Linked DNA regions of Homo sapiens: regions 2, 3, 4, 5 and 6 are each linked to region 1. The links come from fine-mapping of genetic effects on gene expression. A gene starts in region 1. Each other region holds a variant in brackets. All regions are shown on one strand. Distances are from middle to middle.

The links. PIP is the estimated chance that this variant, and not a neighbour inherited with it, causes the effect.
Region 2: its variant is fine-mapped to the expression of UPF3A in lymphoblastoid cells (TwinsUK, PIP 0.91).
Region 3: its variant is fine-mapped to the expression of UPF3A in whole blood (TOPMed, PIP above 0.99).
Region 4: its variant is fine-mapped to the expression of UPF3A in stomach (GTEx, PIP 0.95).
Region 5: its variant is fine-mapped to the expression of UPF3A in monocytes after LPS (Fairfax 2014, PIP 0.91).
Region 6: its variant is fine-mapped to the expression of UPF3A in whole blood (INTERVAL, PIP above 0.99). The same link has a PIP of 0.9 or more in lung.

Annotation. Positions count from the first base shown.
Region 1 is chr13:114,279,321-114,284,430 of GRCh38, reverse strand. UPF3A (UPF3A regulator of nonsense mediated mRNA decay) reads right to left here and starts at 2,830. Exons shown (of 10, transcript NM_023011.4): 1 at 2,585-2,830; 2 at 2,304-2,410; 3 at 1,488-1,594. The coding sequence starts at 2,791. It overlaps LOC105370384 (a long non-coding RNA gene), which reads left to right and starts at 3,362. Exons shown (of 4, transcript XR_007063887.1): 1 at 3,362-4,328. RefSeq lists silencers at 1-195, 1,813-2,022, 2,403-2,582, 2,813-3,082 and enhancers at 2,162-2,849, 3,303-3,602.
Region 2 is chr13:114,193,709-114,198,708 of GRCh38, reverse strand. CFAP97D2 (CFAP97 domain containing 2) reads right to left here. Exons shown (of 4, transcript NM_001395229.1): 2 at 2,233-2,313. Among named protein-coding and RNA genes, the nearest start is that of CFAP97D2, 17 kb to the right of the region's middle. The variant C/T (reference allele first, on the strand shown) is at 2,701.
Region 3 is chr13:114,238,384-114,243,383 of GRCh38, reverse strand. CDC16 (cell division cycle 16) reads right to left here. Exons shown (of 18, transcript NM_001078645.3): 4 at 4,356-4,394; 5 at 3,894-4,034; 6 at 1,104-1,263; 7 at 36-127. Among named protein-coding and RNA genes, the nearest start is that of MIR548AR, 3.6 kb to the left of the region's middle. The variant G/A (reference allele first, on the strand shown) is at 2,061.
Region 4 is chr13:114,147,872-114,152,981 of GRCh38, reverse strand. No RefSeq gene overlaps it. Among named protein-coding and RNA genes, the nearest start is that of RASA3, 18 kb to the right of the region's middle. RefSeq lists enhancers at 1,184-1,684, 1,685-2,185, 4,093-4,272, 4,603-4,662. The variant T/C (reference allele first, on the strand shown) is at 2,605.
Region 5 is chr13:114,308,054-114,313,163 of GRCh38, reverse strand. No RefSeq gene overlaps it. Among named protein-coding and RNA genes, the nearest start is that of CHAMP1, 3.9 kb to the left of the region's middle. RefSeq lists a silencer at 1-70. The variant GA/A (reference allele first, on the strand shown) is at 2,880.
Region 6 is chr13:114,160,554-114,165,663 of GRCh38, reverse strand. No RefSeq gene overlaps it. Among named protein-coding and RNA genes, the nearest start is that of CFAP97D2, 16 kb to the left of the region's middle. RefSeq lists an enhancer at 3,012-3,912. The variant G/A (reference allele first, on the strand shown) is at 3,036.

The DNA.
Region 1 (5,110 bases):
GCCATCACACCTGGCCATGTTACACATATTTTACACACACACACACATATACATACACGTACATACACATACATATTTTTTTGCTCCGTCGCCCCGGCTGGGATGCAGTGGCATGATCTCGGCTCACTGCAACCTCCGCCTCCCAGGTTCAAGCAATTCTCCTGTCTCAGTCTTCCGAGTAGCTGGGACTACAGGCGCCTGCCACCATGCCTGGCTAATTTTTGTATTTTTAGTAGAGACAGGGTTTCACGTTGTTGCTCAGGCCGGTCTCGAACTCCTGACCTCGTGATCCACCCGCCTTGGCCTCCTAAAGTGCTGGGATTACAGGTGTGAGCCACTGTGCCCGGCCCACCAATATTTTTTAAGTGAAAAAGGGAAACTCAGTAAGTTACTGAATAAATGAGCAATGAACACAAAGGTCAGTTCAAGCATCACATTTGCTTCTAGTCACAGGAACTAGCTTGGCTAATGCTTATTTTTTTAACAATCTTTCTAGTCCTTACCCCTCATTGGAGAAAAAGAAAACACTCATCAGTGTCAAAACACGTGGAGTCGGAAGAGGGTGGCTGGGGAGGGGAGGGCAGAAAACAACTTGCTGTGAAAGGTATACAAACTTGACAGCCAGGAACACAACAGCAGACAGCCTGACAGGAGAAGAGAAGGAAAAAGATGAAAGCAGAACCCTAGAAGTACTGATAAGGGAACTATTGAGAGTAGAGTTGAAGACTGCTGTCTCCGCAGGCAAAGCTGTTTAACAGCAGTGACTTCCTGGTGACATTATCATAAATGGTACAGTCATGAAGGATGCTGTTTAGGAAGATAGAAGTCAGTGTACATTTTGGAAAATTCCTATCAGGTAAAATAGTTTAGCTTTAGAACCTAAAAAGATCAAGTTCTCTCATGCAACAAACTCACTCATGAAAACCTTCATTCTCTGATGATAATACATAAATAGGCTGTCACTATTACACAGAATTTCTGGAATTTTTTTGGATTAAATAATAAAATTAAATAATTTCAATTTTTAATATCTGCACATAATTACAGTAACATAATCAAAATTTATAAACTTATTTTAGTCTGAGAACTTTTTAATTAAAATGCACAAATAGACCGGATGCTGTGGCTCACGCCTGTAATCCCAGCACTTTGGGAGGCTGAGGTGGGAGGATCACTTGAAGCCAGGAGTTCAAGACCAGCCTGGGCAACACAGTGAGACCCCCGTCTCTACACAATTTTTTTTTTAAATCAGCCGATCATGGTGGCACACGCCTGTGGTCCCTGCTACCTAGGAGGCTGGAGGATTGCTTGAGCCGCAGTGTGAGGCTGCAGTGAGCCGTGATTGCGGCTGCTGCACTCCAGCCTGGGCAACAGAGCAAGACCCTGTCTCAAAAAATAATAATAATTTAAAAAGCACGAATATTCTAGCAATACTTCATTAGTATACCTACAGATTATAATAGATTTTTAAAAACCAATAATCCAACCTTTGCTGTCAAGGAAGATATATCCATCAAAACGATCTCTAAAAAGAAGGATGTCATCAGGATTCCTAAAATTAATGTATGCTCTTGAGTAGAGATGAGGATAAAGACTGAAATAAGAGATAACAGTGAAAATGGTCAGTGAAAAATACAATAGTCCATTAATTTAGCCTCTTTTTCCTTTTCTGGGCACAACAAACTACTTTAGATAAAACTTTTGTGCCAAATCATCTCAGTTAATTGTAACAACTTGGATATTCTTTAGCAAAAACAAACGCAAAACGTTAACTTTACAAGGCAGAACTCAGGTCCCTTCTCCACTGCCCAGAACCGGTCCTCCGAGGCTGAAACCCTAAGGCAAGGCCAGGGCGCACTCCCAGAGGAACCCGTGGCGCCGAGAGACTCTCCTGACTTGGGGACCTTCTCCGGTATTTAAAACCGCACTGGCTGCGGCACCAGCGTGGAGGCCACAGGAAGAGCCGGCGCCCCCCGGCCCCGCAGCGCCCCGTCCGCGGACGAGCAGGGAAGCCCGGGAGGCGCCGGGCGGGCAACGCTGGTCCTTTCAAAGGCACCCGCTTTCCTAAGCGTTAGCCGTCTGAAAATCATCCGCATTTTTCATGTAAACCACATCTGTGTTTCTTTGTTGGTGGTATTTTTCTTTGACGGAACGGACACGTTTTACTGAAATGTATTTATTCAAAAAGCTCACACGACTCCCATATAGGAGAAATCAGGGTAAGGAACGTAAGGCAACGAGACGGCCACCGCCGCCGAGCTCTGGGTTCCGCCCTCTCTTCCTCCCCTCGGGGCGGGCCTCACCTCAGGTCGGCGGCGAAGAACTCGAAGTAGTCGTGTGCTGGCAGCGGGCGCAGCTGCTCCTCCAGCTGCTCCTTGGTGAGGCCCGGAGGCAGGCGGCGGATGACCACCTGCGGGGAGCGCGCGGCCGTTCCCACCGGGGCGGAGCGTGGACAAGGAGCTCAAAAGGCACCGCGTACCGCGCTGGGAGGCCCGGCCCCCGCCCCTCCCTCCCCTCCCTCCCCTCCCTCCACTCAGGGCCGTCCTCTCCTCGCGAGGTTTGCGCGCCCCGCCCCCGTCCCCACCTTGCTCAGGGCCGTCCTCTTCTCCTCGCGAGGTTTGCCCGCACCGCCCCCGCAACCGGAGGACGAAGTTGGCGGCGTCTCAGCCTCCTGCTGCTGCGAGTCGCGGTGGAACTGCACTTCTAGGGCCGACAGCTTCTCCCTCCCGCTCGGGCCCCGCGCGGCAACGGCCGCCCGAAGGCCTCCGGCCCCCTCCTTTTCCGAGCGCATGCCGCACTCTCCGCCGAGCCGCAGCCGCCAGCCCCCGACGAAACCTCGCGAGAGCTCGGCCGCCCCAGCCCCGCCCCTCCTCGAGCCGCGGCGGTCGGGGCCGCCCACGAAGGGGTCAGGCGCTGCGGGACTAGTCGGGGTCGGGGTGGTGACCTCCGGCCACACAGCCTGGCTTTCCGCCGGGTCAGGCGGCCCCTCAGGGAGCGGCGGCCGCGGTTTAGGGCGGCCCCGGAAGCGGGGCGCCGGCGGCTTTGGTCCGGGCGTGGTGGGAGGAGTTCGCGGACAAGCCGCCCTCCCATCCCAGCACCGTTTTTATCCCACTCCCCCAGGCTCTCCGTGGCCGGGGCGCCATGAAAGCCGGGTTCACATTTGAATTCTTAATTTTTTTGGAGACAGTCTCGCTCTGTCGCCCAGACCGGAGTGCAGTGGCGCGATCTCGGCTCACTGCAGCCTCTGCCTCAGCCTCCTGAGTGGCTGGGACCTACAGGCACGCGCCACCACCCCTGGCTAATTTTTTTGTTTTTTTAAAGTAGAGACGGGGTTTCACCTTGTTGGCCAGGATGGTCTCGGTAACTCCTGACCTCAAGTGATCCGCCCACCTCGGCCTCCCAAAGTGCTGGGATTACAGGCATGAGCCACCGCTCCGGGCCCTTGCACATATTTTTTTATGAACACACAGGCAGCAGCACTTTGATTACAGTAACTTACATGGAAGTTATTTTAAAATGGCTTTCCCCTTCTCTTTTTCATGTAGGCTGCATTTTTCATCTGCAGCACGCTTTCTCTCAAGAATCTCAAGCACACACAAGAAACCAGAGAGTAAAATCACTGAGGCGTGAACACATCCAGAGACCAAGGGCGTCACTGGCAGAAAAGCTTTTAGGCGGATCCACGGCCCGAGAGCCACCCTGCCCAGAGACGCGGTTTCCTAGGAGCAGTTCACACGCGGCTCTGCAGCACCCACAAGCGGGGCCAGGGGCTGGTTTTCATAGTTCACAGTCTGCAGGGATCTTAACAAAAACATGGCCGTGGTAAAAGTGCCTAGACCAGGCTTTCGTCACAACTCAGTGAGTAGGAAGACTAGTTAGGCTGATGAAAAGCTCTGATGATGTGTGATTAAAAGTAGGAAAACGTGGTTGCCAAATAAAATATTTTACTATATAGTCAGGGGGAGAGATGGGGATAAAAAAATGTGGAAACCATTTATTTTAAAATTTTGACTGTTCCTGCAGTGTTTAAAATATAGGAGATATATTCTGATTATCTTTAGAAAGAAACTGCTCTCAATCTATTTGTATGTCTTCCCTCTGGTTTTAAAATATTAAACAATCATCTAACTCAATATTTAATTTTACCTCTAGTCATGTTACTAGGTTAGGATAATAAAAAGGACTGTGAACTTCACATCTGCCATCTATAATAGATTCTTATTGTAGCAATCTTGCACCAAGGGGATTTCTTTATTAACTCTGCCAAATTTTCCAAAATTACCAAATGGAGAAAAGAGCTGGTCCCATCTGTCACCAGGCACAACCAGGTCAGTAACTTAGGGTATTTCTTGTGTTCATGTTTTGCCCTCACCACTGCAAAGCCCTGTTCTCGGCCTGGTGCCTCTGCACACCTCTGAAGCCAGGTTGGCCTCAGCCAATGTGAGGGACCCTTCATTTGACCTTCCCCAGAACCTTGAGTATTTCCACTTCTCCCTTCACTGCACTGTACCCTAAAGGGACTCACATGTTTGCTGGATGTGTATATTTCGTAAACCTAGCCAGCAAAATGTCCAAATGTTTTTCCCCCCAAGTCAATTTTTTAACACCCTTCTGATTCTTTACTTCCTGTTATTGCAAAGTTCTGAAAAATGATTTTGAAAAAAAGGTAGGATTTTAGAATTCAGCTGTTTGATGAAATTATCTTTAAATAAAACCATATGAATTTTAAGATACAGTGAATGAAATACACTTGTAAAATAGCTTATGATTTTACATGACAAATTATATCACAAAGAAAAGCTAGCTTCCTACACATTAGCCAGCCTGTTGAAATGCTCTGTTTGATACATGTACAGAACTTTACAGCCAAAGCAAAGCAGGAAGAAATATCTCCAAATCCTTCTTCATGTGGGCTTTTAGTATGTAACTTTACTTTTGCTTAACTGAACACTTCCATCTGTGAATGTGGCCCTGGGCTACATTTTACTTGGTAGCCCCTATCTCATTGGTAGATGACAGTGACTTGAAGCTGGTGACCGTAACACTTCCCAGTATTTCCTTTAACGATAACACAGCCACTGTAGTTAGCAAACAGGACACCTTTTTAGGA
Region 2 (5,000 bases), 86 kb after region 1:
CAGCGGGGACCGTACGCACGGGGACCCACTGTCACGCCTCAGCGGGGACCGTAAACACGGGGACGCGCCGTCACCCCTCAGCGGGGACCACCAGCTGCTTTGCCCATGGATTGGAACGCATTGGGTGGAGTAAGTGAGAGTAACACTGAGGCGAGGCACTATCTTGTAAAATTAGGTGACCCTCCAAAAGTAACATGTGGCGGTGGTGCTAATGAGGAAATCTTTTTTATATTTTAAGAAAGATAGAGATATTTTATTCAGTTATAAGAAGAGAATATTTGAGCCCAGAGGAAAAGAATCTGCCTCTTGTTTTAGGCTTCCAAGTGGTCGGTCTGCAGATATGCTGGAGACTGGTTACTCGGCTTCAGTTCAGCCCATTTTAACACCACTGCTTAACAGGCTCATATAAAGCCCACAGCCTTTTGTCCTGGAGGCATTACTTCGAGATAACCATGCAATTCTCAATCACCAAATGAGGTAAACTTCACGAGGTCAGGAGATCAGACCATCCTGGCCAACATGGTGAAACCCTGTGTCTACTAAAATACAAAAAATTAGCCGGGCGTGGTGGTGCGGGCCTGTAGTCCCAGGTACTGGAGAGGCTGAGGCAGGGGAATCGCTTGAACCCGGGAGGCGGAGGTTGCAGTGAGCCGAGATCGTGCCACTGCACACCAGCCAGGCAACAGAGCGAGACTCCGTCTAAAAAACAAAATAAAAAAAGAAAAGAAAAAAGAAATAAACAACACCTGTAATCCCAGCATTTCAGGAGGCCGAGGCGGGCAGATCACCTGAAGTCAGGAGTTTGAGACCAGCCTGGCCAACATGGTGAAACCCCATCACTACTAAAAACACGAAAATTAGCAGGGCTTGATGGTGGGTGCGCCTGTAATCCCAGCTACTCGGCAGGCTGAGGCAGGAGAATCACTTGCACCTGGGAGGCAGAGGCTGCAGTGAGCTGAAGTTGTATCACTGGACTCCAGCCTGGGCGACACAGTGAGACTCTATCTCAAAAACAAACAAACCCAAAACCCAACATTCTGAGGTGGTTAAGAAATGGTTTACTGTAAGGGAATGATGCTAGTTATTCTGGAACTGCACTGAATAAATTGTCACTGTGAATCCACTTCCCTTCCCCCCAAGACATGATGGGTCATGTAAACCACAAATAAAATTCTAAGCCCCCTCCACAACTCCCAGCCAACTGAACAGACCCCTCCTCTTGGCCAAGGGCATTCCTAAGTTAACCTGACAAACTAGTTCAGGCCATGATGGGAAGTGGGGTTGGACATGCCTCATTATGCCCTGCTCCCAATGGAATTTAGGCACAACTGACCAGCATTAAGGTTAAAACAGAGACCTTAAAACTGACAAAAAGACTCTTTGTAGCAATAAGATACCAACATGATAGATAGCAGGTGTTTAAAAAATATATAACTATTTTACCCCAAAATATATTTATTTGACATATTTCAAAATGGCCCTGCAAAGCTGTCTCTTGTGGGGAAAATCTACATTCTGTAGAGAATCTCCTTCCCTTTCCAGGTCTTTTTCCTGATCCAGGAGAGAATTTACTTAGTCTGGCACCTTTTTAACTCTGATGAGCAATATTTACAGTCTATTTCCCCTGAAGCCTGCTACCTGGAGGCTTCATCTGCATGATAAGAATTTCGGTCTCCACAACCCCTTGTCTTAACCTAGACACTCCCTTCTATTGATTCCAGGTCTTTAGATAAATTCTTTCAACCAATTGGCAGTCAGGAAATCTTTGAATCCACCTGTGACCTGGAAGTACCCCTGCTCCCACTCCAAGTTGTCCTGCCTTTCTGGACGAAACCAATGTACACCTTACACGTATTGATTGACGTCTCAAGTCTCCCTAAAATGTATAAAACCAAGCTGTATCTTGACCACCTTGGGAACATGTTTTCAAGGACTTCCTGGGGCTGTGTCACGGGCAGATCCTTAAACTTGGCAAAATAAACTTCTAAATTGATTGAGACCTGTCTCAGATAATTTTTGGTTTATAGTCAGCACAACGACTGGGGAAAGATTTCTGCTCCAATTATCAACCAGCTCCCTCACGGACAGACGGGGCTAATTAATCACCTAGACTGCATTTTGTCTTCGGTGAGTTTATTCCTTACTAACCCTGCCTTTTCTATTTTCCTGGGCTTTTAAGCTGGCATTTTCTAGTTAGCTATTACATTAAGTAAGGTAGAAATGAAAGTGTACCTTCAGCCTCTTGAGTTTCAGGTGGAGATGGCGGAACGTCAGCGGGGCGCGGGTGTCTACCAGCGGCTGGGCGCTCTGGACCTGTGGCATGAGGAGGCAGCGTTACCTGGGCGCAGTATTGGAAACAGAGTGAGCTCAGATTGTGCTGCTCTGGGGTCTTTCGTGGCACCAGGGATTCCATGTCAGCACACGGCCTGAAGTTCTGAAAGAGGCTCGTGCTTAGATTTGGAATCCGAGTATCCCCTGGAGGAAGCCAGGCACCCTCAGAAATGAGCCTCTATTGCCCTTTTAAAAGACAGAATTAAGTGGGTGCAGGGTGAGAATTTGTTAAATGCCAACACCTGGTGACATTTCTAGTCTGCACTCTATTGCCAAGAGGCTTTTTTTTTTTTTTTTTTTTGAGTCTCGCTCTGTTGCCCAGGCTGGAGCATAGTGGCGCAATCTTGGCTCACTGCAAGCTCCGTCTGC[C/T]GGGTTCATGCCATTCTCCTGCCTCAGCCTCCCGAGTAGCTGGGACTACAGGCGCCCGCCACCATGCCCAGCTAGTTTTTTTTTTTTTTTTTGTAATTTTTAGTAGAGACAGGGTTTCAACGCATTAGCCAGGATGGTCTCGATTTTCTGACCTTGTGATCCACCTGCCTCGGCCTCCCAAAGTGCTGGGATTACAGGCGTGAGCCACTGCACCCAGCTGCCAGGAGGCCTTTTATACAGTGAGTTATGTCCCTGCATCCACCTCACTTTAATTTCCAAGCTCTCCACCAGTATTTCAGGATGAGCACCTTAGGCATTAGCTGTACAACAATCTCTAAAGTTTCCACTTAGAAAAGGTACAAATAAGGGAAACATTTATATTTAAAATGTGACAGGTTAAATGCATGAGACCTGTATGTATCACTGCTTGCAATAAAAAGGAATCCCCGCATATTCTAGACATTCCTTTATAGATAGTTAACTACGGGACCTGCTCACGGATAACCTGAAGGCGACAGCATTGGGAAACTCCCCAGTGGAGGAAGAAACCCCCAGCACATGGAGAAGGATAGCCAGGCTGGGGACTGAACCCACGTGCAATGTGGTGACAGCACAGAGGGTGGAGAAGATGCAGCGAGATGTCAGGAGGTGGAGAAAGGGGCAGATGGAGACGTGTTCACAGAGCACACTTAGGAGCTGCAACTTGGTCCCCAAAGGAAAGGGAACCATTGAAAATAGAGGCAGAGGAGTGACATGGTCACATGGTCACTTTTTACAGGCTCCTCTGTCACTACGTGTGAACGAAGAGAAGCCTGAAGGAAGGCAGGGAGGCCAATGCCAAGGCTCCTGTGGTCATCCAGGGAGGAGACCTGGGCCTGCAGCATGCCCAGGGCTGTGGGGCCACTGGGCGGGGAGGTGGCAAGATCCAGGCCCAGGTGCGGTGTACATGTGTGGGGCGGGGGTGAAGGGAAAGGAAGGCATGAAGAATGCCCTCTGCTTTCAGTTTTCATACCAGGTGACACTAAGACAGAGAAGGTGGTGAGTGGGTTTGGGGCATGGACAGGAAATTCTGAGTTAACTATGTTTAATCTGAGATGCCTACACAGAGCTTTCTAGAAGCAAGTTTCTTCAAGCTCCAGATAAAGATTTGAGAACATAACTGTTATTAAAAATGTCACACTAGCTTGCCTGGTGGCAGAACTTGTTGACCAAGGCCTTTTGAACCCCTTAATGTTATCTGATGTTGCTTCTTGTTTAATTTAAACATTAGGTACGGGGGGAAGGGAGTGTTTCCTTACAGCAAAATGCCAGTTGGTAAACGTAGAAGCAGTGGTGTGGTCGAAAAATCACCATTTTGTAACCATCATTGTAAAGATTGGTTTTGGCAAAATCATCAAAGAATGCTCTTGGGGGGGAAATGAGTGCCCCCAACAGAGTGCTTATTAGTATAAAAAATGGAGACCCGATCTCCCTTCCACCCTCCTCCCTTCCATGTTTGACTCAGGACTCACGTAAAAAGGCCTATATTGCCACTGGTCGTACATCTTTTACGTCTAATGTACAATTTCCCTGTTTTTCTCCCTGCAATTTGCTATGAGAAATCCAGAGAATTTGTCCTGTAGAGTTTCTGAGTCTGGATTTTGCTGATCACATGCCTGACATTTTCTGTATATTGGCAGTTAGAAATTCAGGTTCATTTTTCTTTTTCCTTGATAAACCACAGGTGGTATCTTGACATTTTATTGGCAGGTACAAATTTTTGCTTGTCTCTACCTTGTGATGTTAGCAGCAGTGAATGATCCTAGATCCATTACTTCATTATGGTTTGAAAAGTGGAGATATTCTAATTCCATCATTCAATCTGTATTTGTTTGCTGGAATACTTCTGTAAAGAAAAGCTTTGCACTGGCAAGAAACTTACTAGGTTTTCTCTATTTGCCAATTTCAAAATAGTGAGTTGGTTCTTAGTACCTTCCAAAGGTGACTAGTGAGGTGTTTTGTTTTGTTTTTTTAAAAGACATTAGGAAGTAAAATGTTAAAACATATTTGACATGTTTCAGTCTATTGTATTAACTTTGGCAAGGTGCAGTGGTTCACACCTGTAATCCCAGCACTCTGGGAGGCCGAGGCAGATGGATCATCTGAGGTCAGGAGTTCAAGAGCAGCCTGGCCAACATGGTGAAACTTTGTCTCTACAAACACATTTGCCAACTCCTTGACCTTGGACTTCCCAGCCTCCAGCACTGCGAGAAATAAGTTTTTATTGTTTGTACATCACCAGCTTATAGTGTTTTGTTATA
Region 3 (5,000 bases), 41 kb after region 1:
CATAAAGCAAGTGCTAACTCTTTGGTTTTACTTACTTTTTTCAATTTGTTCTCAAATAGAAAACGCAGCAATTCCTGTTCTTCATTACACAGCTTGCTAAGGGGTAGTGATTCAAGAAGTTCTTTTTCTTAAAAATGGTGAGAAAAAAAAGAATATCCTCATAATATTTATAGAGGGGAAAAAGCCAACAACTAAAAATATGATTCTACAGTTCTTGGTCTAAGTAAATCAAACTCAAAAGAGAACATAAGATCAAAATGTGCAACAGAAGCTGACACAGTGGCTCCAGGCCTGAAGACGGGAATCATCTGGTGGGTGGAGGCTACTCTTTCAGGGCTGAGGCAGGTCCCCAGGTGGCTCTTGTCACCTAAGAACCACCAGCCTCCGCACTCCTGACTGCGTGGATCTTGCTCTGCTGGGAACAGGGGAGCCTGTGTACTGCAGGTGCTAAGCAGGACCTCTGGCCACTAACCACTAGATACCAGCAGCAACCTCTCAACCTCCCTCCCTGCCCCTAAGCTGTGACAAACAACATCTCCAGACATTGCCAACTGTTCCCGGGGCAGGGGGCGGCAAAATCACTCTGGTTGGTTGAGAACCACTGCACTAGGCTAAAATATGTTAGAATCCCATTAATCCAACCACTCTATTTTCTGTTTCCCTTGTTGACGCACCTCACACCACTGCCAACATACTTGGACTGATTCTCAGTGCCTGTGGTACATTAGGATCACCTGGGAGCTTTAAAGCATCTGCTCTGGAGTTGGGAACTGGACATGGATGTTTCTCTGTCTTCCCAAGGATGTAAAGAGCAACACGGTTGAGAATCACTGCATGAGATACTGAAATCCTGGTTTATACTATCTCAATCACTTCTCAAAAAGATGGCCTCTTCCTATCACAATCCCTAGATTCGGACAGCACAAGGCACCGTACAATACTGCATTCTGCAACGTGCTTTACATTTGAAGACATTAAGAAAGTGAGTAGGTCTATTTAAACCTGTATGTGGCCTGTTGTTGACTTAGAAGATTTCAGAGGCAAAAAATCCAAACAATATTAATTTTGCTAAACATAAAACAAAAAAGCCTGAGTTTCCAAACCTTCTTGTGCTGTCAGCATGTGATGTGATGTTAAAAGATCGAACGCTTCAAAACAGTAGACATCAAGCTTCAAAGCTTCTTTGTAGCTGTAGGTAGCCAGGGTTCGGTTATCTAGAGCATCATAGATTTTCCCGCGTAGAAGACAGATAGAACTCTTTATCTGTTGGAAAAATGATGAGTCACATATTAAGTCAGTACTTTTAAACTTAACTTTTTTTTTTTCTCCTTAGAGGCAGAGTCTCACTCTGTCTCCCAGGCTGGAGTTCAGTGGTGCGATCATAGCTCACTGCAGCCTTGAACTCCTATGATCTCAAATGACCCTCCTGCCTCAGCCTCCTGAGTAGCTAGGATTACAGGTGCACAATACCACAAACAGTTAATTTTTTAAATTTTTTGTACAGACAATCTTGCTATGTTGCCTAGGCTGCTCTCAAACTCCTGGCCTCAAGTGATCCTCCCACTTTGGCCTCCCGAAGTGCTGAGATTACAGGCATGAGCAACCATGCCTGGCCCTTAAACTTAACTTTTGATAGAGAATTGTGTATTTGAATGCTGAGAAGTTTTTATTGCATTTAAAAGGATTTAGTCAATCACAACTGTCAAGGCATAAATAAAAACACACAAAAAATGCACAGCAAAGCTTCTTCAATTCACCTTCCCTGGGCTTCAACTGCTCTGTTCCAACACATCTTTATAACAAAAGTACATGTCACGGCTACTAGGTTCATTACCTGTTTTGTCCAAAACAGTGCAATGATTTAGAGATGGCAGAGTGTGTGTGCATGTGTATAAAACTCCAAGATTGACAGTGTGATAGGCAGACACCCCTCAAAAGGATCTTAATGAGCAGAAACTGGCAGCAATGCAGCAGAGTGGTCACAGCAGTCAGCACAATGGCCTGCTGAGGCAGCACAGACCTGAGTTCAAACCCCAGCTCTGCCAATTACTTGTAACCTC[G/A]GACAAGTGATTGAACCTCTCTTGGCCTCCATTTCCTATCCTCATCTGTAAAAAGATAAAAACACTATCTAACTTATAGAACTCTTTACTATCTAACTTATAGAAGTCTGTGAGGGCTAGAGATGCTACCATCTCTGTGGTGCTAGCACATAGTAAGGCGTTCAACAGCCATCTCACGACTACCATAAACACGAAGATGTGGAAATCTGATGCACATTCTAGACTCTGGACCTCGAACACATAACTGAATTTAAAGATGATCCAGCAACAGGCAGCTAGTATCATTAAGGATATGAAGAAGATTCATAAAGTAAAATTTTAGAAAAAATAATGAATTATGAGAGTCTTCGAACTAAGCAATATCCTAGGAGTTGTTTTTTAAAAATGTAATTTCACAAAATAAATAATAATGCGTTGCAAATAAATCACACATTTCATAGCAAATAAGTTAATGGATAAGAGGTCCCAAAATAATGACTGTACCACACACTTTCATAAATGCATTTCTTAACAGAAGAATCTGCTTCCCAACACATACATTAATGAGTGGCCAGAAAAAAAAACAAAAACAAAAACCTAGAATGTGTAATATTCTTTTATGCTTAAAAATAACTATCTAAGGTGAAAAGTCAAGTAATAAACTTCTACCAAAAATATAAATAAATGGGCCAGGTGCAGTGGCTCATGACTGTAATCCCAACACTTTGGGAAACTAAGGCAGGAGGATCACTTGAGCCCAGGAGTTTGAGACCATCCTGGGCAACACAGTGAGACCCTGTCTCTACAAAACATTTTTTAAAAAATTTAGCCAACTGTGCCGGGCACAGTGGCTCACACCTGTAATCCCAGCACTTTGGGAGGCCGAGGTGGGCAAACCACGAGGTCAGGAGATCGAGACCATCCTGGCTAACATGGTGAAACCCCGTCTCTACTAAAATAGCAAAAAATTAGCCGGGCATGGTGGCGGGCGCCTGTAGTCCCAGCTACTCGGGAGGCTGAGGTGGGAGAATCACTTGAGCTTGGGAGGTTGAGGCTGCAGTGAGCTGTGATTGTGCCACTGCACTCCAGCCTGGACAACAAAGCAAAGACCCTGTCTTAATTTAAAAAAAAAAGATGTGGGAAGAAAGAGAAATTGGTAGGTCAGGTAAGGCTTACAGGGATTCTTTCTGAATAATAAAAATATTCTAAAATTGACCATGGTGAGGTTTGCAAAGCTCTGTGAATACACTAAAAGGAATCAAACCATACAGTTTAAATGGGGGAACTGCATGGCATATAAATTATACCTCAATAAGTTTTTATTTTTTTTTTTAAATCCAGATTAGTGATCTGTAAATGTCACTTAATAAGTTACTATATGATGTCTGCCAGCAAGGAATGTGCAATTTCATGGAGATATGAAGTATACAAACTGAAATATACACAATTACATAGCAATGTACTTTGAAGCAAACAGAACACAAAACCATTTCCTGGAAAGAAACAATGTACGCTAATCAAAGTTTCTTGGTGTAGGTCCAAAACACTGCTGAAACACAGAAAGGAGAAGAAAAATTATTCCACTTTTAGGGAGTAGCTTAAGGCATCAAATATGAGAAGGAAGTTTCAAGCCAGCCTATTTTGGATGCAGGCATCTGCGGATACAATTACAGCTTGCAACTAAGGGCTCAGAAATGTCTCAGAATCTTTTTTGGTTTTGGTGGGCAAATTAAATAAATTGGCAACCACAATTGTTTTAATATAGTAATAAGTAAAAGAAGATAATGTGTTTCTGCCACGTAATGAGGGCAATTCTCGCCGCCGTTACTGAGCTGTGCTCACAGTACTACTTACTGAAGACTGTGACATTTCCCAGTCGCTGGAAGGATCTTTGAAGCCACTTTCGTCCTTCAAGTATTTTTCAAATAATCTTTTATTGATGGGCTCTTCCATGTCAAGAACATCAAGGGCCTGCTGGTGCTCTTTTGCAGCATACTACGTGGAAAACAGAAGTGCCGCTCATCACTCACGACTTCTAACACGAAACACATGATCCGAATTTTTAAAGGATAACATATACTATGCCCATTATTTAAATGTGAAATGTCTAAAGTAGAATTTTCTTCATGCATGTCAGCATGTGGTAAACGAAGAATCAGTATTTTATAGCAAACATGACTAAGGAAAGGAACACTTCCTCATGAAATACTTTACTAACCTGCTAAGCTCCATCACTAAAATTCTCACACATATTTAAGAGATGCATAACACTCATTTTATTCAACCAAATAAAAATGAAATTATGAGCATACTTACATGGCACCTAGCTGCAAGGTAACGACATGCTTCATACAACTAGGAAAGAAATTAATTTGTTTAAGTAGTGGTCAAAATAATATGTATCTTCACTTTCAAAGAAAGCCATAAGCATAAAATAGAACTAATTTCATAATTTCTCCTTTTACTCTTGCAGTTAAAAAAAAAATCCAGTCCTGTTAAACCATATTTATTATGAACCTACTGTTTACTAGGCACCAAGGATTCAAAAGCAGTAAGGCCCTGCCCCAGGAGGTTACAGTAGGGGAGATGTGAACTAAGCACAACAGGTAAGCATGACGAAACGGGGCAACAGAAAGCATCAACCAGGTGGAGAAGTAAACATCTGCAGGAGAGCGAGTAAGTGAGGCAGCGAGTAAGTGGTCAGGCAGAGGAGTGGAGCACTGGGTAGCTCTTCAAGCACTGAGTGTGAATAACTGCTGGGGGTCCAAGGAGATCGCAGCAGCTCCACTTCAGGCACTGAGTGTGAATAACTGCTGGGCGTCCGAGGAGATCGCAGCAGCTCCACTTCAGGCCCTGAGTGTGAATAACTGCTGGGCGTCCGAGGAGCTCGCAGCAGCTCCACTTCAGGCCCTGAGTGTGAATAACTGCTGGGCGTCCGAGGAGCTCGCAGCAGCTCCACTT
Region 4 (5,110 bases), 130 kb after region 1:
GGCATTGCTGCTGCCCGTGTGACTTCCTGACTGGACATTTGCCACTGGCAGCAAGAAGCCCAGGCCCCTCCGATTCTGCTCCAATTAGGCCCAACCTGAGGGGCCTGACCGGAGCCCCATTTCCCCGTTGTGTCTTGACCAAAAGAATACCAGGTGGGCCATTACTTGCTTTCCAACAAACAGGTGGTGAGGAAAAAAACTTTTCCTTCACTCACTTATGTTTTTTAGTGACTGGAGTCCTGCAAATTGAACTGGCAAAAGTAGATTAACAGGAGAAAAAGCGTTACTTCATATGCATGTGGCGGCTTCACGAAATGAGACAAAAACCCCGCAGAGGCAGTCAGACCAGAGGCTTATTCACGATTTTAACAAAAGGCAATACATTTGTGAAGTGATGAGCTACAGGAAAACAGTGTTGGGTTCCTAGGGAGGTAAACTGTGAGCGGGGAATGGTGTGAGGAAACCACGGAAGCTGGGATTATTTTTGTGCGGGTCCTTGAGTGGAGCTCTCCCAGTCAGGTGAGGGTGGTGTCTCCAAGCACAGCAGGCACTGTGGCGCCGGGGAAAGAGCTGGAGCCTAGGACTGTCACACCTATCACCCGTGGGACAACAGTTATGTGTAGACTTGGGACTGGGGGACAGGTTCAAACCATGGTCTGCTACTTGCTGGTGACATCTCCTTAGGCAAAATCCTTAAATTCTCTGTAGAAAACAGCTCTAGCAATAGCATCCATTTCATGGGGTTACAGAAGAATTGAACGACTTAATAAACGCTAAGCACCTGACCGTGCCTGGTGTGCAGCTAGCTGTCACCACGTGAAGTGCTTAGCACAGCACTGGACAGGACCCTGGATGGAGGGCAGCGTGGCCGTGTTTGCTAGGGCTGCATTGACAGTCGTCAGCTGGGCGCTGCCTGCTTCAGCACAGACGATGCCGTTCCTCAAGGCGGTTTTATGCCTCTTCTTCAGAGTCAGTAGCACGTTCTCTAAAATATCCTTAAATATGGCAAATCTTTGTCTTTAAAGGTAAACTTGAATTTTATTTTTCAATACAGACCAAAGTAATTTGGAATCAAGTATTTTACAGGAAGTGAGTGATTCAGGTAGGCAGTGACACTGACCCAGAAGTCAAAGCGCCGCCTGGCTGTTGCAGCAATACCGGGCGGTGCCTAGGCTCATTCACTCGGCCCTGCTACCTACTTGGAAGAGCGCCCGGGCAACCGCCTACAGTCTCGCAGCTGTAACCTCCTCATCTGTCGAATGCAGAGGACAACACTTCATACCTCACAGGGTGATCTGTTCTGTTGGTTCACCTCGGAACTGAGGGGCTTCCTTGGACACTAACACTGGACGGTCGGGGGCAAACCGTGCAGTTGCCCCCCTAGAATTAGATGATCCGTGTGCACGTGGCACTGGTGAGTGCTCTGGAAATAGCTTTTCTTATTTCTTAAAAGTTGTTTTTAAAGATAGTTCAGAAACAATGAGTGTTTTGTTGAAATGGTGAGTTTGTGATGGTGCCCAGACTTGCCTCCATACACCGAGCCTGCATGGCCCTTCCCCTGTGACCGCTGGGCCTGGACACACGGTGCAGCTTGACCAAGGGGACAAAAGCAGCCCTGACACCAGCAGAAACTTGGGAAGTGCTTGAAAGGCATTGGACGTCCCCGCTGTTGCGGTGGGAACCTTCTGCTGCCAAGTGGGCAGGCCGAGTTGGCCTCCTGAGAATGAGGGAGTGAATGACAGAGACCTCAGGTGCCTCGGAGGCCATGTCTCTGCCAAGGCCTTGCACGTGTGAGTGAGGCCCTCTTCCACCCCAGCCCAGCCCAGGAGTCTCAGCCCCGAGAACCTTCCAGCCAACCCTCAGAATTTCGGGAAATGATGCTGCTTCCTTTACACCACTAGGCTGGTGGTGGTTTGTTATGTAACCAATTGAGAGATCTTTAAAAAGTTAATAAATAAAGCTAAAGTTCTTCAGTGCATACAATCCAGAAGGGGAATTGGTTCTGTATGTTGATGGTGGAAAGGAACACAGCACTGTGTAGAATTTGGAGCCAAGACCTAAAGAAGCAAAGCCTATAAAATTCATCTTTGGCTCCAGGCATAAAATGGTCTCTCAAAGTTTTAGGGTTTTGTTTGTGTGTTTTGCTTTTTGAATGACTACTCTTTGAAAATTCTTCTCTAAGAGAGAGAAAACTTAATATAAAAATTCCAGATTAGGTGTTGGGGACTCATTTGTTATCTTCTCTTGTGCACATACATCTCGAAGGAAGAAGTCTGCAATAAAAATACAAAGTTCAGCACAATTAATGTCAGCAGTTTTTCTCCACCGTAGGATTAATAAAGGATCCAGGTAAGTGGTTCTCAAAGTGTGGTCCCCAGGTGAGGTCCCCAGGTGTGATCCCCAGGTGAGGTCCCCAGGTGAGGTCCCCAGGTGAGGTGACCGTCCCACTTTGCCCTAGGGCTGCTCCAGCTTCAACGCTGAAAGTCCCAGGTCACAGGAACCCTCCTTTGCCCCTGGCAGACTGAGGGGCTATCACCCTATTCTGGGACCAACAGTAAAGCATCACTTGGGAAGTGGATGAAGTGTGAATTCTGGGCCCCACCA[T/C]AGACCTGCTTAACAGGATCTCTGGCGGTTAGGGTTAGGGTCAGGTCTGCTGGGCAGTGATAATGCAGCTAAGGGCGGGGTCCTGGGTCCAGGTTTAATCTGGGAAGGGTCTGGGAGGGACTGGGTTTAACAGAAGCACCCAGGTGCCAAGCACTGGGGCAGAGCTGGAATCCCGTCAGACGGTGGGCAGACCTGCAGCCGACCACCACTCTCTGCCGAGGGGAGGGGTCCTGACAGTGCCGTGTCCACCAGACTCGAGAGTGGGGAGTCTGGTAGCTCCAGGGGAAGACTTTCCAGGATTCTCCTTTCACTTCAGGTGTGGCTAGTGTTTCCAGCAGGTGGCACATGCTAATTGTCCCTGTTGGAAAATTCTGAGTCAAGCCAGTGGTTGAAGTGGGTCCTGGAATACCAGGTGTGATATATTTGCAAAACACTTGTGGTCAAATTATGCCATCAGCAGTGGTGAAGGGAAACTTGTAATTGTAATAAATTAGCACTTGAGTGTAGTCCCATCATTGGAAAGAGCATGGCCTTCAGCCCCAGTAACACTGAGATTGGTAAGCAGATGTCTTTTGAGGAAAAAAAATAAAACAGTATTCTGAAATCCAACACCTGTTTATTTAATCACATTTTCACATTTACTGTGCTTTCTAGATGATTTGCCAAGGTTGTCTGGTCCTGGTAAAAAATGTATGAAATGCCTCCACCTGAACAGAGAAGAAAATGTGATCCCAATGAGAACTGTCTGCAGCATCACACTCACCGCTGTGTCTGAGAACAGGATTTTCCATTTCGGCAGTGGATCTAAACCTGATGCCCAGGACCTGTTTTAAGCAGTGAATCAAAGATCACAGAAGTTAAAGTTTGGCAAGTTTTCGACGTCAAGGAGATGGAAAGCCTAAAATCAGTTTCTGAACCACTAAATTAGAGGGAACAGCCTTGCTCGTGAATTTTCCAGAATTCCACAAACAATTAAGAAGACCCAGGGTAGGAAGCACATACAATTTGTTTTCTTTGATGGTTAAGTTGGTTTAAGGCACAGAGTTGAGAAGACAGGTAAGAAGAAGCAACTGTTCAAGCCCCAAGGAGAACCCAGAACCGACCCAGCCCCCGAGGAGAACCCAGAACCGACCCAGCCCCCGAGGAGATCCCAGAACCGACCCAGCCCCCGAGGAGAACCCACAACCGACCCAGCCCCCGTGGAGATCCCAGAACCGACCCAGCCCCCGAGGAGATCCCAGAACCGACCCAGCCCCCGAGGAGATCCCAGAACCGACTCAGCCCCCACGGAGATCCCAGAACCGACCCAGCCTCCGAGGAGAATCCAGGATCCACCCAGCCCCCACGGAGATCCCAGGATCTCCTTGTTTTTTAATCGAAAACTTGTTTTTCTCTCCTGTTTTTAATTTCTTAAGGAGAAAATTTGAGACGAAGACAATGGCCACCTAAATTTGTGTGATACCCTGTTATTTCACAGTTGCCTTACAAGAATAACCGTGTCTCATTTGTCACTTTCTGCTACCTGAGAAACCACTCTGTATGATGTTGACGTGTGACCATGTCCAGGTGCAGCTGACGTAGTCTCAGAGACGTGTCTTTGGAAAAAACAGTACACAACAAATGATTATGAGCCATTCTGAGCATGGTGGTGAGCTGCAGCCAGCAGAACACACCCAGCCCTGCCAGCAAAGGAAGCTTGGTCAACCACAGCAGCCTGTATGGGCTGCGATGGAAACCATGTTGAGTCCCCACCTCACAGTTGAGAAAAGCAACATAATTTCACATGATGCACTAGCCGTGGCGCCTGCTACACACGAGCTCTGGAAACCTCAGCTGCCCTCATCGCTTCCTGCCATTCTGGAAGAAAAGTTAAAATTGGAATTAGCAGTAACACGGGCCTCTCAGAGTTTTGAATAAATAGTGCTGTAACTCATCCTAGTAACTTAACTGGGAACCAGGCATCTCAGCTGGTGTTGCAAAGTCACGCAGGGCTGGGGATCCCCGAGCCCCCTGGGTGAGCTGGGTCTTGCCTATTAGCTCTGTAGACAAGGCAGGTTCCAAAGGGCAGTGCGAATGTGCTTCGAGTTTTACAAAATTCTGTGAGTTCAAAGCCTTTGGATATCTGAGTCTGTCTTAAGAGAGCCTCAAGCTAATATTCACACAATTGTGTGTCTCGGTATACAGTTTAAATGCTGGCATTTAGCTTAGAGAACAAAGAAAACGTGAAGTCAAAGAAGGAACAAAAGCATTATATCCTATCAAAAAATAACCAAATACTATTCAACCATTTTGAAAATTTCTGATTCTGGCATTGGGGAAAGTGGCTGCAGATGACGGTGATGCATGCCCAGCAAGTGGAGGAGGCCGGGGGCAGAATGTTGCCCAGGTGCTGGGTCGGTTCTGGGTTCTCCGTGGGGGCTGGGTCGGTTGTGGGATCTCCTCGGGGGCTGGGTCGGTTCTGGGGTCTCCTCGGGGGCTGGGTCGGTTGTGGGATCTCCTCGGGGGC
Region 5 (5,110 bases), 29 kb before region 1:
AATACTATCCCATTGTATGGATATGCCACATTTTGCTTATCCACTCACCTGTTGATGGACACTTGGCTTGCTTCCCTATTCAAGATATTGTGAATAATGCTTTGACATTTTCAAAGAACCAATTTTTGGTTTCATTGATTTTCTCTATCGTTTTCTATTTTCTATTTCATTTATCTTGGCTTTAATCTTTATTATTTCCTTCTTTTTGCCAGCTTTGGATTTAGTTTTTCTTTTTATAGTTCATTAAGTTGTAAAGTTAGGTTGTTAATTTGAGATTTTCTTGGTTTTTGATGTATTTATAGCTATAAACTCCCCCTTTAGCATTGCTTTTGCTGTATCACAAAAGTTGCTATATTGTGTTTACATTTTTTTCTTTTCTTTTCTTTTCTTTTTTTTTTTTTTTTTTTTTTGAGACAGAGTCTCGCTCTGTCGCCCAGGCTAGAGTGCAGTGGCGCCATCTCGGCTTACTGCAAGCTCCGCCTCCCGGGTTCATGCCATTCTCCTGCCTCAGTCTCCCGAGTAGCTGGGACTACAGGCTCCCGCCACCACGCCCGGCTAATTTTTTTGTATTTTTTTAGTAGAGACGGGGTTTCACCGTGTTAGCCAGGATGGTCTCGATCTCCTGACCTCGTGATCCGCCCGTCTCAGCCTCCCAAAGTGCTGGGATTACAGGCGTGAGCCACAGCGCCTGGCTCTACCTCCCTTTCATGCAAAATTTAGGATCCTGTGTTAATTTCCGGAATGATTCTGATTTCTAGGATTCAAATATCAATATTAAATATTTTAGGATTTTTCTAAGTTTTGTTTTTGCAGCAAAATTGATTCATTAAATTTAATAGATTTCTTTAAAAAGTATCCACCTAGTTACAAGCTTTTAAAAGAGCCAATGAAAACAGTTTGTAAACTGTAAATGTTAAATGCAGAAATGAGAGGATCTTTTATTTTCTCTGAATAGCAAAGATTTACTGATTGAGAACTTTTTGAGATCCTGACTCTTAATATGAAACAGGTTCGTTGTGGCTGCAGGACCTAATTTGAATGGCTGCTTCAGTTGTTTTTTCCTGAAGTGTCAGAATGAGTTGATGATCCCAAGAGACCTATTCCAATTGAACACTGAACAAAACTCTAGCAGAAGGCAACTCTTGGTGACGAAATAACAAAAACCAAAACACCCTCTGCTATTATTCTGAATTGAAATCATGTTAAAAAAGCTATTGTAGTTATAGAATATTAAATAGTTCAAGATGAATAATGCAAATAAACTCCCAATTTGGCCTTTTGAAAGGTTCCCAGTATATTGCACTAAACTTTAAAGTAACCAAAGAAAGCAGAAATAACTCTCATAAAATCCTGTACTAAAACCAGACCCTTATGGACTTTCAAAATTTCACTTAAGGATCTATTGAACATATACTTCTCAACAGTTTATTTTGATGTTTTCTCAACCTATACTATGTTCCAGGGACCAGACTTGAATCAGGGAATGGGTAGAGGCAGGTGAACTACAATTGCAGTAGAAAGTGGCAGCCTGACAGCCTTTGAGGAGCTGCAAACTCATTAGCTGAGATGGCACTGGACTTTGTCATTTGTCTTCTGTGTATAAAGAATAACAGTGCTGAGTATCTGCACATATTCAAAACCTACACAGAATCATGTTGTCAAATGAAGCAGCCAAAATCAGACTGGCTTTCTGTCAGAAAGTCAGACTTAATTTTTCCATTCAAATTGCTGCATTAATATGTATTACAAGGAACATAATAAAAATTAGAAATAAATTATTAAGTGCTTCCTGTAAGAGAAATAATAAAAGCAGTCCAGCTTATAATTTAGATCTAATATAATCAACTTAGCTACTTTATAATAAAAAAGGACAAATTATTCTGCTATTTCTACTTAATTTATAATAATGCAAAATAATGGGAACTAAAATAAGTTACTTAATGGGAAGTATGATAAAATGGAATTCCTCCTGAGTATCTAGCTCTGTTGCTGGGCTTTGGGGAATGTCAAAGTATAGTTCTCAAAAGTTAAACACATGACTCACACGAATATAAAGTGAACACATATCAGAGGATTTATTTTATTTTGTATTTTTTTTTGAGACGGAGTCTTGCTCTGTCGGCAGGCTGGAGTGCAGTGGTGCGATCTCTACTCACTGCAACCTCCACCTCCCGGGTTCAAGTGATTCTCCTGCCTCAGCCTCATGAGTAGCTGGGACTACAGGCACTTGCCACCACGCCCAGCTAATTTTTGTATTTTTGGTAGAGATAGGGTTTCACCATGTTGGCCAGGACGGTCTCAATCTCAGAGGATTTATTTAACTCATTCATGAGGGAATCCAGAGGAGGATGAAGCTAGTTCAGAAGGTTCATAAAGCTGAGTACGTGCAGCCACTAGAAAAAGTGGAGTCAAATGGCCAGTTAGAAACAAAAGTGGTTAGGATCCTACAGGGAAGCACAACTGCCACCTTTGAGGCCATGTTATAGAAATCACTCACATCTCTACTGGGCAAAAATCCGTAAGGAAACATGTGATGTCACAGTGTGGGCACAAATGTGGGTCAACTGTTAAATAATCGGAGCTTGTCAGACATGACACAGCCATGCAATCACTCTTTTTTGCCTTATTTCCGAGTTTTAGACATTTTTTTAAATAGGACTGAAAAATAAAAATCAAATATAAAAATTAGAATCAAGTCCATTAATATTTTCTTAATTTTTTTTTTTAACCATTCACTAGCCCCAGTTTTGGAGGGAGGAGAGGATGCCCAGGCCCCAGAAGCCTTTGCTGGTGGGCATGGGGCTCTTCCTTTCCTCTCAGGCAGAGCAGCAGACTTTGCTGAAGGGCAGTCTAGGTCCACACAGCTGCCAGGGGTGGCA[GA/A]TGGGCACTGACTGCTGCATTGCAGGCACTCAATCAATGCTAGTTGAGCGCCAGTGAGCGAGTGAAAGGCAACTGGGAGCCTGGTGCTGGCCGGCAGAGCAGCTAAGTTCTCATATGGCCAGTTTACCGTGTAAGTGCAAAGCCAGCCTCAATCAATCCTGCTACACTCTTCATGAAAAGAGCAGCAGAGGGCACTTTGTTTCAAGCAGGCTGCCCAAGAACTATGGTCACCTGCTCTGCTGGTTGAAGAAAAAAAAAAGCAGGAGTGGTGAGCATAGAAACCAGCCTGGCCCTGGATACTGCTTGTGGTTGCAGAACTGCAGAGAGAGCCCATGGTCTCTCCTGCCCCGCATTGTGTACCAGGTGTGCAGCCAGGCTCCCTCTCCGAGCAAGGACTTCTACCACCTGCCATCACTAAAGCTGAGGTAAGGCACTGGCAACACTAGAGACCTACAGCTTTAATGCTGGTTGAAAACATACTTTCTCCTGTTCTGGGAATGGCAGGCACAGTCGCTGAGAGCTTTGGCTGTGAAGTCAGACCAACCTATGTTAGAATTTGCCTCTGTAACTTACTGTGTGCGCGTGCACATGCTTGAATGTGAACTTGGGCAAGGCTACTTTCTCATATGTTTGCATGCAGTGGAACGATAGTACCCACCTTATAAGCTTGTTTTGGCATAAGACAGCATGAAGTGTTCAGAGCACTTAGTGCTAGCACACTGAACAGAATCAATGTTAGATGCCATTATTTTATACTGATTTAATTACAGTAACAAGAACTCTGACCATTAATAGAGAATACTTACTTCATAGGATGAGTATCAGGACCCAATAAGAATAAAAGATTTGAGAGACAGTTTGGGGAAACAGGTAAGGGGATGGGCTTAAAGTATGATTTTCAGAAAGGCAAAAACATGCACTTGAGAGGCTGAGGTGGGAGGACTGCTTGAGGCCAGGAGTTTGCGGCTGCAGTGCACTGTGATCACACCCGTAAATTGTCAATGGCCTCCAGCCTGGGCAACACAGCAAGACCCCAGCTCCATAAACATGACTCAGACACAGAATGAACAAGGAACATATATCAAAGTTTAAGCAATTTGCTAATGGGGCTGTTTCCAAAATACATCCTATAAAACCTAAGGGTAAGTTTTTATGTGGTTTCATCCTAATAAAGTGTGCAGTAATCATTAAGATAGTTAAAACCTGTTTCTACCAAATGTTTCCCAGTTGCAGTCATTCTTTATCCAATTAAATATTTTATTTCTGGCCAGGCACAGTGGCTCACGCCTGTTAATCCCAGCACTTTGGGAGGCCAAGGTGGGTGTTATCACCTAAGGTCAGGAGTTCAAGACCAGCCTGGCCAACATGGGGAAACCCCGTCTCTACTAAAAATACAAAAAATTTAGCCAGGCGTGGTGGCGCACGCCTGTAGTCCCAGCTGCTCAGGAGGCTGAGGCGGGAGGATCATTCGAACCTGGGAGGTGGAGGTTGCAGTGAGCCGAGACTGTGCCACTGCACTCCAGCCTGGGCAACAGAGTAAGACCCTGTCTCAAAAAAAAAATTTTATTTCCACCTTCCATTAGTTAGAAAAGTTATAAACTAAATGATAAATGCAATTAGTTTTCAGCAGCATATACTTTAATGTTTTCTTAAATACATGTAAAACACTTGGTCATGTTGTAAAACAAAATTATAATTTAAAAAATCTTTTCAATATTCCCAAAAGCCCCATGCTAGAGTTTTACATATTCATACACATATTTACTGAAGAAATAGAACTCCCATTATCACACGGCTGGCCTCACCAATAACTCATACATGTAGCTAAACATTATATTGTATTATTTAAATTAGGTAATGAGAAAGACTATTTGCTCTATATAATTTTAATCTTGACTTTACTACATTTTCCAGAAATTGGATGAATTAAATCTGCAATCCAAGGCTTTGGCAAATATGCATTGAACACTTTATAAAAATATTGCACTGACAAAGATGTGCTGAAATCACTGCTAATCCCCCAAACCTTTCTGAATATGTCAGATTGAGCTCTTTCTCTCCAAGAGTGGAAAAGCAACAGGTGTAATTAATAGTTAGCTGGTAAGTCCTGGGAAACCTTTTATATTTACTTCTCAGAAACAGAGAAACTGGATGATTTTAGTGATTGAATAATAAATCCTTTTAAAAGTTAAGTGATTCCCAATCGTTAGCTTTCAATAAAATTGAAACA
Region 6 (5,110 bases), 120 kb after region 1:
GCCACTGATGAAAAGCGATATTTTGGGTCAAACAATTCTGTGCTGTGGGGAGATGTCCTTTGCGCTGTGGGATCTGGGTGGCACCCCTGGCTTCTAGGATTCTATGGCTGTAGGTGTGCCTCACATCCAGTGTGACAGCTCAAAGAGTTTACAGGCGTTGCTGTCCCCTGGGGAGAGATGGCAGCAAAAATCAACCCCAGTCGAGAACCACTCTGTCAATCTAATGGGTGAGAGTTCACACTGAGCACCTAGGTTGGTTCTGAGGGAGATTGTTTTGGGAAGGTCAGCCTATGACATCCGAGCAGATAGTCGTCGCCTTTTATGCGGGTGACATGGAGACCACTTTCTTCACCTTCCAAGCAGGCTAGGAAGGGCCGACTGGCCGGGCAGGCTGTAGTCCTGAGAAAGTTCGAGTGAAGGCACTCTGCGCTTTGCCAGGGTCTGTGCATGGTGAAGGGGCCGTGTGGGTGGGCTGGGGTGAGGAAGACAGGCGTGAGGGTGAGCTGGGAAGCTGGGGGGCAGGTGGCCTGGTGTGCAGTGTGATCGCTCCCACACCACTTGTCCCCAGGATGGTCACTGAGCTCTCAGCACCGAACTGCATGTCTGTTTCCTTGTGGGAACTTAGCGTGCACCCACCAGTAAATTATTTTCAAATTATTTTCTTACTGGGGCTCATCATCTCTTCCATGAATGGGAAGTACGAACTAAGCACATGCCCCAGCGTGCACCCCAGACAGCGACGAGGACGCTTGTGCTGGCAGCAGGGCAGGCGGCAGGAACCCCAGCCAGGAGCCCAGAGACTCGGGGGACTCCAGCTCCGTGTGTCCCTGGGAGGCTGCTTGTCTTTGGACCTCAGCGTCCACATCAGTAAAATGCAGGACGTCACATCATAGCTGTGTCACAAGAGGCGAATAAGACCAGAGGTAGAAGCACTGGGAAAGGACGGTGCTCCTGGGCCTCGGGCTGAATGGTGGAGGAGCTGGGTGCCTCTGGCTTCCATCCTCCTTGAATCAAGTTCTTGCCATAGACAGCACAGGGACATGCACTGTGCCTTCCCGAAGCAGCACCTTTGAATCGGGGGTCAACTCAACTCTAACTTAGAGAAAGTGGTTGAGATGAGCTGAGATTTACCTTCTTCCATAATAAACTTTACCTTTTTATTCTAATTCTGCCCATTGAAGTCACACTGAAGAAACGACGTCCTTCTGCACACGAGGCCCCTCAGTATTGAAGACGGCAGAGCACACATCCTTCCCCCATCTGCCTCTCCTTAGGCCACGCTTCCTCAACCCCTGTAACTCCTCCTGCGTGGCCAGGGAAGCACTGCTTGGAGTTGTAATTCACAGTGGTGGTCAGAGGCAGGGAGGAGAGGGTCCCTCGCTGGGTGCAGAGTCCGGCGGTGGTGCTCAAACGGTGCATGCCCCCACCCCACCTAAGGGGCTGATGAGCCCCCTTGGTCCCGGCAGCCCGCTCAGTGCCACATGGCCCCCTCGGTCCCCCTGCCGGGTATGGAAGGAGCACTTCTACCAATGGAATGTGAATGGTGTAGAAAGAAACAAAAAAACAAAGCAAGAACCGTCCAGTCCTAGTCTAGGCTCGTGTTTTCAGTAAAGAAACTGTGTCTCCCAGGAGTTGACAGCATCTGCTTGAGGGTGTACAGCTCCGTCGTCACTGGGGAAGGCTGGTGAGGGTGCAGCCTTCCTCACTCCTTATGCTTTTCCCAAACTCTGGGAAAAGCTCATCTCCGCTATCTTTCAGTTACATTCCCATTAGGAACGGGTGTTGTGGACGCCCTGCAGGGTGTCTGCCCAGCTCCCCACGACCCACAACCCACCCAGTCTGCCCTGTTCTTAACACATGACCACTCCTGCCCCTGCCCTCGGCCTGGGCCCAGCTGAATGGATCACGGAAATGATCTCTCTAGAGACTGGAAGTGTTGGGGCGCAGCTGGTTCTCTCGGCATGTGGCTGGCAGAGACACTAGGAGACTGTGGGAGATGAGATGAGGGAGAGGCAGGGGAAATAGCCTTCAGGGGAGAGGACTTTGAGAAGAGGGACCAAGAAGCAGGTCCAGGAGGCCTGATGGGCTCTGGGTGGCTTTTCCAGCCCTGGCTTTAGATCTGCAGGAAGTCCAGCTGCCCTGGGTCTGTGGCAGACTCTGCAGTCTTCCAGGAAACTCCTTTTCTGTCTTGACCTGTGAATGGAGACTGTGTTGGAGGCGTTGGCAGTGAGGTAAAGTCACTCCTGTCTCCCCCTAGTTTTGTACATTGGTAATATTTGTTCTCCTGGAAAAATAGAGACAGGAACCCCCGCCTTCTTTATTTTTATTTATTTATTTATTTTGAGATGGGGTCTCACTCTGTCACCCAGGCTGGAGTGCAGTGGCGCGATCTCCACTCACTGCAACCTCTGCCTCCCGGGTTCAAGCAGTTCTCCTGCCTCAGCCTCCCGAGTAGCTGGGATTACAGGCGCCTGCCATCACGCCCAGCTAATTTTTGTATTTTTAGTAGAGACAGGGTTTCACCATGTTAGCCAGGATAGTCTCAAACTCCTGACCTCAAGTGATCCACCCACCTTGGCCTTCCAAAGTGCTGGGATTACAGGCGTGAGCCACTGTGCCCGGCTAACCCCTGCCTTCTTTAATAGAAAAATTCAGATTTCTAATTGACTGGCCTTCTTTATTTTCTTTCGCCTTCAGAAAAACTGGGAACAATATGGAAGATATTTATGCTCATGCTCCCAGTGGAGGAAATTTTTAATGCCTCGAACTTCCTAGAAGAAGAGCTCTCTGTTGTGCCTTGATGGCCGCATGGCCGTTGCTTGCTAAGACCCAGCATATGCAGTAGCCTCAGACAGAAATCCAGTCGCTCTGGTGAGTAGCCACCCATCGCTCGTCACACTCTCCCGAGACTCTGGCGAGTAGTCACATATCGTGCATCACACTGGTTTTGAAAAAGGACCCGAGCGTCTCTCCTGAGATCCCTGCACTCTTCCCTGGCGGCCGTCACTTCACCAACAGTGAGCTAAGTTCGTGAC[G/A]CTTGTTTCTCTCAGGACAAAGCAGAGATTTAGGTGTCGGAAAAGCACTGCAGGCACCTTATCCCTGGACCAGAGACTCCCTTGGTCTGCTTTGTTTTTAAAGTAGAAACGGTCATTGTCAAAATGGCCCTCAGGCACAATATTTACACAGCAGAGACCCAGTCGCAGCCGCCTCACACCGAGGTCAAGGGGCAGAGACAGCAGGAACCGTGAGCTCTGGTTCCTGAGCCAGTGTCTCCTCCCTCTACCGAAGCCCTCGTGTTTGCACTCTCTTGACGAAACACCGAGCTATTTAAGTGGGAATAATATAGTTCCTTCTGTAGACAGCACAGCTGATGCCGTGGTCAAGGACAAAAATGTTAAAAGGTTTGGCCTTTAGTCGAGGACGGGCAGTTGTTGCTTTCCTGGAGGTAGCTGGACGCAGGCGGGTTTTCCTCCCGTGAGGAGCACAGCAGCCTGGGCGGGTGAGGAGGAGCCAGGCTGGGCAGGGCGGCTGTGGGTTCTCGACTTCCTCCTCCTATTCCGGGTGCCAGGAGCTGTTTACTGCCCTGTGAGAGCTTCCTGACAGCAGCTTCACTGGCCCCCTTCCAATCGAGTTCCTGCCCTCTCATCTTTGTGGAGACCACGCTGACTATGATTTCCGAAAATTTACTTGTTCTCTGCCAAATCCAAGGATTCCCACTCCCTCCCACCCATACCCTCGCTTTGCTTCTTCCCGGCTCTGCACACTCCCCAACTTGCTTCTGCACCAGGGGCCCCTCTGGGGAAAAGCAGATGTCCCTTGAGCTAAAGAAGTTGCAGTTCACCCAGGCTGGGCTGTCCTGGAGGTTGTGGGCACGTGAGCGTGGGAGGGGTCGTGTGTTCCTCCACGCTCACCCAGAGCAGCCCCCTCTCGGCTTCGTGTAATATGCTGGTGTCATACATACTTAGGTCTGTTGGAAGAAAATGTCCCAGGACTCACATAAATGATAAAAACCGTCGTTCCAGGCAGCCCATGGCTGGCATCTTGAGTGCCAATAACGTGCTCCCTGAAGCTTTCCCTGGTGGACACGAAGCAGCACTTCGCTCGTGATGGCTGATTGAAAACATGCCGGTGAACTGGACGACGGTGAGCACGACCCCCGCCCCCCGCCGCTGTGGCCGCCGCGGGGAAGCCTGCGCGTGAGTGGGACACACTTTGCCCTTCGTATTCTGAGGACAGAGGTTTGGCGTGTTAGCGAGGCCGCCAGAGTTTCACTCACACCGCGAGGCGTTCTCTAGTTAGAGGCGAGAGGGCACGACCGGAAGCGGAAGCCGCGTGACTGGGGGGGCGGCGCCGTGCCCGCCTTGGGAAGCTCGCTTCCGGTGAGCAGAGGGATGGAAGAACGCGTGCGTTTAACGTGGCTTCTGCTGGCTCCGCATGAAACGGGTTTCCGAACAAACCATACTGGGTCCCTGCCACATGTGCGTTGACCTCATTGGAGGCGAACCTTTGCTCAGGAAACTGATTCACCCAGTGGGTGACAATCAGGAGGGGCACGGAGGGCCAACGTGAGCGTTCTCACAAGCTGGGGACGAATGACGAGGCAGTGGAACAATTGCGGGATGAGGGGGGGTCACGGTGAGTCCTGCTTTGAAAATGAGTCAGGAGTAGATACAACATTTGTAAAGATGACCTGCTACCAAAAGGCCTTTGGTAAAATTCAACATCCTTTCATGTTAAAAACTCTCAATAAGCTAGGTATTGATGGAACATACCTCAAAAGAATAAAAGCCATTTATGACAAACCCACAGCCAATAACATACTGAATGGGCAAAAGCTGGAATCGTTCCCTTGAAAACTGGCACAAGACAAGGATGCCCTCTCGCACCACTCCTATTCAACACAGTATTGGAAGTTCTGCCCAGGGCAATCAGGCAAGAGAAAGAAATAAAGGTTATTCAAATAGGAAGAGAGCAAGTCAGACTGTCTCTGCAGATGATATGATCCTATATCTAGAAAACCCCATCATCTCAGCCCCAAATCTCCTTAAGCTGATAAGCAACTTCATCAAAGTCTCAGGATACAAAATCAATGTGCAGAAACTGCAAGCAT